Linked DNA regions of Homo sapiens. The protein of the gene in region 2 interacts with the protein of the main gene of each other region in a pairwise test. Each region holds a gene or a part of one and is shown on either strand. Other genes may lie near its edges.

What was found. The genes of interacting proteins can lie anywhere in the genome.
Region 1: the proteins of PHLDB3 (region 2) and CHTOP interact in binary tests that used the Homo sapiens proteins (3 or more experiments, as listed by UniProt).

The regions. Positions count from the first base shown.
Region 1 is NC_000001.11:153,632,418-153,636,167, reverse strand, and holds the start of CHTOP (chromatin target of PRMT1 protein), read right to left. Parts: upstream 2,103-3,750; 5' UTR 1,825-2,102; exon of another isoform or gene 1,807-1,824; intron 1-1,806. UniProt on the Homo sapiens protein: Plays an important role in the ligand-dependent activation of estrogen receptor target genes. May play a role in the silencing of fetal globin genes.
Region 2 is NC_000019.10:43,498,192-43,501,841, reverse strand, and holds part of PHLDB3 (pleckstrin homology-like domain family B member 3), read left to right. Parts: coding exon 1-108; intron 109-3,650.

The sequences.
Region 1 (3,750 bases), on a different chromosome or scaffold from region 2:
GGTTTGAAGCCAGGAGTTAGAGACCAGCCTGGGTAACAAAGCGAGACCCAGTCTCTACTAAGAAAAAAAAAAAAAAAAATTAGCGGTGCATGGTGGCCAGCACCTGTTGTCCTAGCTACTCAGGGGAGCTGAGGTGGGAGAATCGCTAGAGCCCAGGGGTTGGAGGCTGCAAAGAGCCGTGATCATGCCACTGCACTCTGGCCTGAGACCCCATCTCTTTAAAACAAACAAATAACCCCAAACAAACAAACAAACTTCAAGGCCCACAAAATACCCGGGAATTTCTCAAAAACGGCAGAAGCCAATCTAGCAATCAAAGTATGGAGTCTGGCTTTTTTTTTTTTTTGAGACAGAGTCTGGCTCTGTCGCCCAGGCTGGAGTGCAGAGGCGTGATCTCAGTTCACTGCAACCTCTGCCTCCCCGTTCAAGCCATTCTCCTGCCTCAGCCTCCTGAGTAGCTGGGACTACAGGCACGTGCCACCATGCCCGGCTAATTTTTTTTTATTTTTAGTAGAGACGGGGTTTCTCCACGTTGGCCAGGGTGGTCTTGAACTCCTGACCTCACCTGATCCACCCACCTGGGCCTCCCAAAGTGCTGGGATTACAGGCGTGAGCCACCGCACCGGGCCGAGTTTGGCTTTTACTCTAGAGCAGTCATTTTCAACCTTGACTACATATGACTTATCCAAGGAGCTTTTAAAACATAGGGCCGGACAGGGCGGGCGCGGTGCTTCACGCCTGTAATCTCAGCACTTTGGGAGGCCAAGGCGGGAGGAATGCTTGAGCCCTGGAGCTCGAGACCAGCCTGGGCAACATGGTAAGACCCCGTTTCTATAAAAATATAAATTAATTAAAAAAATAGAAAATACAGACATCTGGGCCTAGATCAATTAAACCACAATCTCTGGTAATGAGGTTTGGAAATGAACCAATTGTGGGGTCGGGGGAAAGCTACCTAGGTGCTTCTAATGTGCAGCTAAAGTTGAGAACCACTGATCTACAGTGAAAATACAGGCAGGGCCGGGCGCGGTGGCTCACGCCTGTTTTCCCAGCACTTTGGGAGGCCGAGGCGGGCGGATCACCTGAGGTTGGGAGTTCGAGACCAGCTTGACCATCATGGAGAAATGTCTCTACTAAAAATACAAAATTAGCCGGGCGTGGTGGCGCATGGCTGTAATCCCAGCTACTCCGGAGGCTGAGGCAGGAGAATCGCTTGAACCCGGGAGGCGGAAGTTGTAGTGAGCTGAGATCGTGCCATTGCACTCCAGCCTGGGCAACAAGAGCGAAACTCCGTCCCCCCCCAAAAAAAAATATATATATATATGTATGTATATATATACATATATATATGCATGCCTAGTTTCAAAAGTGGCTTTCAACTCCAGAATCAAGTAGGGACTTTAACAAGAAACTGACGATCTGGGGGAGTAGGAAAGGTTTTCTAAATTCACCTGGGAATTAGCTCGCAAAGAGCCCTCCACAAAACTTAACCCTAAAGCCGCCATTAATTTCCAACATTCCTCAAAGTCTTGTACTTCTTAATCTCCCTACCATCCTCAAAGCCCTGTCAAGACTTCCACTTCTGCTCTACCCGCCAAGTTTCCTTTTTATCCTATCAAACCCCAACCTCCATCAATCCCGCCACCAGGTTCCAGTTCAGCCCCTCCCCCGCCCCTTCGCAGGGGCTCCGCCTCCTCCCCGGGGCCTCCACGCTCCAACACCGTAGCTATGTCCACATGCCACCACCCCCTTTCCGCGTCCGCCGGCCCCTTCCGCTCCTCAAGACCGCACCTCCCCCGGCTCCTTCTCACTACCGAAACTCACCGAAGGAAACAGACGCCAGTGCTCCTCCCGGGGCTGCCACCACGGCTCCGGCAGGCGGGCCGGGGACCGGCCGAACCTGAGTTGACGGTGGAGGGGCTCGGGTTAGCTAGATGGGCGGTTGGTTAGATGCGTAAGCGGTAGTATGCGAGCTCAGTTCGTTGTTGCTGGTTGGCTGTCTAGTCGGCCGATCCGTCTGCTCACCCGGCCTGCCCTTTCCTGCCTTTCGTCTGCAGCGGCCGCCAGCTCCTGCTCGGTGTCCAAAACAAAATGGCCGCCACGTCCAGTGCTTGTCTGACCGGCTAAAATGGCGTCTACGCAATTACGTCAGGCGTCAGATCCGCGCACGACTAGAGGGCGGGAAAGATTTGAGCTACGCCTGCGCAGAGGTCAGAGGCGGAGCCTTAGGGCGAAGGCGGGGCTTTCCATGCAGTGCCCCGCCCCTAGGGGCGTGGCCAATGGTCCTGTTGTTGGGGCGTGCCGGGGACTTCACGTTCCAGTAGTGGTTGCGCTGCAACCTCTTGGGGGTAGTTATTAATGTGGGCCTTAGAGGGGATTTGGGTCCCGAATTCCCTCGCCCCTCCGTTCCCTAGCCAAGGTACACCGTCTAAAAATCTTTACGCGGACTTGCCTCGTCTTCTTCCGGACAATTGGGCCTGGGGAATTTGCACTGGTTTTCCCCTCATGGCCACTCGCCCAGTCTGAGAGTTGTGAAGTGCCGTAAATGCTCCAGCCAAGGCCCAGGAGGCCAGTATTAGGAGCAAATTCCTCTCCCATCCTGCACCGGCCAACACCACCGCCCGTCCATGTTTTCCTCCTCACTTCCTCCCCTCCCCAACTTGGCCTAGATACTGTTTACTCCTTCTTGGGGTGGGGCACCTTTGCGTCCTCGATTGCGTTTCCATGTCCTCCCCCCACACCTGCCATCCGTGTTTATTTTGTTGCAGACCTACATAGGGATTTCTCTTTTCTCTCTCTGATTTGTTGTTGTTATTTTGAGACGGGGTCTGGCTCTGTTGTCCAGGCTGGAGTCAGTGGCGCAATGAATCACGGATCACTGCAGCCTTGACCTACTGGGCTCAGGTGATCCTCTCACCTCAGCCTCCCGACTCCTAGGATTATGGGCATAAGCTATGTTTCCTGCTCAATAAGGGATTTTTCTCTCTTTCTTTTTTTTTTCTTTTTGCAGATGGAGTCTCGCTGTGTCACCCAGACTGGAGTGCAGTGGTACCATCTCGGCTCACTGCAACCTCCGCCTCCCAGGTTCAAGCGATTCTCCTGCCTCAGCCTCCTGAGTAGCTGGAATTACAGGCGCGTACCACCATGCCCCGCTAATTTTTGTATTTTTAGTAGAGATGGGGTTTCACCAGGCTGGTCTCCAACTCCTGACCTCAAGTGATCTGCCCGCCTCTGTCTCCCAAAGTGCTGGGACTACAGTCGTGAGCCACTGTGCCCGGCCTCAATAAGGGATTTTTCTAATGACTATGTGCACAATACAGTGTACATATGTTTGAGGAATGAGAGAATGACACATCTGCAACCCTTCCTCTGCTCCACTGGCACGTCAAGACCCTTTCATTTTCCTTCCTGGCACTTGGGCGTGTGCGTGTGTGTATGTGTTTGTGTGTGTCTGTGTGTAAGTAATGGCCCAGCATCCTTACCCATGTGAGGGTAAGGATCGTGGTTATTTTGCTTAATGCTGGAGCCTCAGTTCCTACAGTGTTTACACATAGTACCACTTAAGTAAATGTTCGTTGATTGAAAGAAGATTCTTTCGGCCTAGCGCGGTGGCTCATGCCTGTAATCTCAGCACTTTGGGAGGCCGAGGCGGGGGGATCACGAGGTCAGGAGATCGAGACCATCCTGGCCAACATGGTGAAACCCCGTCTGTACTAAAAATACAAAAAATTAGCCGGGCGTGGTGGCAGG
Region 2 (3,650 bases):
GAGCTGGCTGGGGAGCGAGTGGCCGCTCGCCGGGAGGAGGAGCAGCTGCGGGAGCTGCTGGAGCAGCAGGCGGCCTCGGAGCAGCGCGGCCGCCAGCAGCGGGAACAGGTCTGTTTGGCTCACCGGGTCTTCATCAGCAGTGTCCTTCCTGGTCCATGGATGTTGGTGTGCTCCTAGCCACCTGCGCCCCGGGGTTGTCCCCATTCCCCAAAGGAAGACATTTGGGCTCCTGAGAGAGTGAGGGGCAGATGCCCCTCCTGGTTTTCCTTCTCCCTCCCTGGGCGAGATTTTTGGGGCTCTTCCTTTGTCCCCTGTCCGTTTGCTATTTAAATGTGGGTGTGTAAAAACTTCCAAACTGGCCGGAAGCAGTGGCTCACGCCTGTAATCATAGCACTTTGGGAGGCCGAGGCGGGCGGATTGCCTGAGCTCAGGAGTTTGAGACCAGCCTGGGCAACATGGCGAAACCCCGTCTCTGCTTAAAAATACAAAAATTAGCAGGGCGTGGTGGCGGGCGCCTGTAGTCCCAGCTACTTGGGAGGCTGAGGCAGGAGAATCGCTTGAATCCGGGAGATGGAGGTTGCAGTGAGCCAAGATCGCACCATTGCACTCCAGCAGCCTGCGTGACAAGAAGGAGACTCCGTCTCAAAAAAAAAAAAAAAAAAAAAAGAGAAAAAGAAAACTTCCAAACCCACCCCACAATAGTCAGGCAGCTCCCATGTCCTGTGCCCACCAGCTTCATCAATGATTAATATTCTTACATTCTTGTTTCATTATCTCCAATTTGTTCTCGTCCCCAGTTTTAAAAGCCAATCCCAGACATCATATGGTCTGTACATATGTTTAGAGTGTATCATTGACAGATAAGAAATCCTTTTAGGCTGGGCCAAGTGGCTCACACCTGTAATCCCAGTACTTGCGGGGTGGGGGGGGGGTACGGGGGGCGGGGCAAAGTGGGAGGATCGCTTGAGGCCAAGACTATGAGACCAGCCTGGCAATATTATAATAAGACACCGTTTCTGTGAAAAATAAAAATACAAAAATTAACCAGGCATGGTGGCATGTGCCTGTGGCCTCAGACTCAGAAGAGTGAGGTGGGAGGATCAATTGAGCCCAGAAGGTAGAGGCTGCAGTGAGCTGTGATTATAACATTGCACTCCAACCTGGGCGATAGAGCAAGACCCTGTCTCAAAAATAAAAAATTAATAAGTTCTTAGTATTGTCTTATTTCTGGTTAGTTTTTGTGTTTCCCAGACAGTCTCAAAATGCCAGTTAACAGGTGGCTTGTTTGAATGAAGTCCCCAAAGTTCAGTGTGATTGGCTGATACGTCTTGCCCATTGTTTTATCTCTGGTGGTTCCTACCCGCTGTGTCTTCCCCATACTGTTTATTGGAAAAATCCAGTCTTCTGTCCTATAGGCAGAGCATGGCTGATCGCATGCCTGTGGTGCCCTTGAACATGCCTCTGTTTCTGCAAGTGGGTGTTGGTTAGAGGGAGAGGTTTGATCGTATTCAGAAGTGCTTTAGTGCTTCCTGAGCCAGTGTTGGGAACCTCATCTCTGGTTGTCCCGACCTAATAAGATCACCCTAGTCTCTTTTTTTTTGCGAGACACAGTTTCGCTCTTGTTGCCCAGGCTGGAGTGCAATGGCGTGATCTTGGCTCACCGTAACCTCTGCCTCCCAGGTTCAAGCGATTCTCCTGTCTTAGCCTCCCCAGTAGCTGGGATTACAGGCATGCACCACCATGCCCGGGTAATTTTGTATTTTCAGTAGAGATGGGGTTTCTCCATGCTGGTCAGGCTGGTCTCGAACTCCTGACCTCAGGTGATCTGCCCGCCTTGGCCTCCCAAAGTGCTGGGATTACAGGTATGAGCCACCGCAGTTCGAGGCCAGCCTGGCCAACATGATGAAACCCCATCTCTACTAAAAATACAAAAAATTAGCTGGGCGTGGTGGCAGGCACCAGTAATCCCAGCTATTCGGGAGGCTGAGGCAGGAGAATTGCTTGAATCCGGGAGGTGGAGGTTGCAGCTCCCAGGAGCCAAGATCACACCACTGCACTCCAGCCTGGGCAACGGGAGCAGAACTCCATCTCAAAAAAAAGAATCTTTTATCTGAAGATTGTAACATCCATCAGTGGTCATTGCTTGGGTCAGTTACCATTATAGGTTGGAAAATGGTGACTTGTGATTTTGTCAGTTTTTTTCTTTGCAAGTGTCGTGTATGTTGGAATTTTATGAGGCTGGGTCCTAGGCCCTCATTTATCCTCAAAGATCACATATTTCTCCCAGGCCCTCTCTCCTGAGACAGAAATGTGCTCTTCTTCCTAGGGTACTGGCTACTTCATACTCCCTTCTCACCCAGATCCAGAAATCTCGGTCGCAGCCCCTTCTCCCTCTGTCCCAGGAGTCCAGACCCCCAGCTCCTCCTCCCTCAAACCCAGAAGTCCAGACCCCCAGATCCTCCTTCCTTAGATCCAGGAATCCAGGCCCCAGCCCCTCCTCCCTCTGACCCAGGAGTCTGGCTGACCTCAGCAACTCCCTTCTCCACACTGTTTGTCTTGCTGTCCCTTTGGTCACCAGGCCAGAGTCCTGGACTTTGCCCTGTACACTTCCCTGTCTCTCACCTCCAAGCCCGTCAACCACCATGTCCTATCCTTTCTGCTTCCTGATCCTCTCTGTCTAGTCCATCTATTTTTCAGCCCCACCGCCCAGGCCCCAGCTTAGGTCTCACCCTCATTGCTTGGAGGACTCCCGAGGCAGCTGCTCTCCACCCCTGTAACCCATCTCCCAGAGGGATGATTCCTAGCTCCTACCCCATCCTTTCAGTCCTTCTGAGGCTCCCCATATCCCCAGGTTGACCAAACCCCCCGTGAGCTGGACGAGCTGGCCTTCCCACTGTCCTCTCCCACCACGTTCTTCCCACCACCACATCCTCTTCCACCCTGGCTGGAGTTTGTCCCCCAGACTTCTTGTACTTTTCAACTTTCATGCATTTGTGCCAAGCCGCTTCCTCTGCCCAAAATGCTCTTCTAGCTCCTTTTATTTTCCCAGATCCAAATGCTCCCTGATTGTTTTGTTTTGTTTTGATTTTGAGACAGGGTCTCACTGTCGCCCAGGCTGGAGTGCAGTAGTGCAATCACTGCAGCCTCAACCTCTGGCTGACATTGTTCTTCATTCTGGGTTCCCACAGTCTCTGGATTTTACTGCCCTGATCTTTCCAACTGGCTGTGTTCCCACTTGGAGGACAGGGCCCAGACACAATCCACTTCTGCATCCACCGTATCACATAACATGAATATGTTTTGCATTCATTAATTTTCTTTCTTCTTTCCTTCCTTCCATCATTCCTTCCTTCCTTCCTTTTTGTTTCTCTTTCTCCTCCTTTCCTTTTCTTTCTTTTTCTTTCTCTTCCCTCCCTCCCTCTTTTCTTTCTCTCTCTCCTTCCTTCGTTCCTTCCCTCTTTCTCTCTTTCTTTCTTTTCTGTCTTTTCTCCTTTCCTTCCCTTTCGAGACAGTGTCTCCCTCTGTCACCCAGACTGGAACAGTGATGCAAACACAGCTCAGTGCAGCCTCAATCTCCCTGGCTCAAGCAATCCTCCCACCTCAGCCTCCCGAGTAGCTGGAACTACAGGCGTGCACTAACACACTCCACT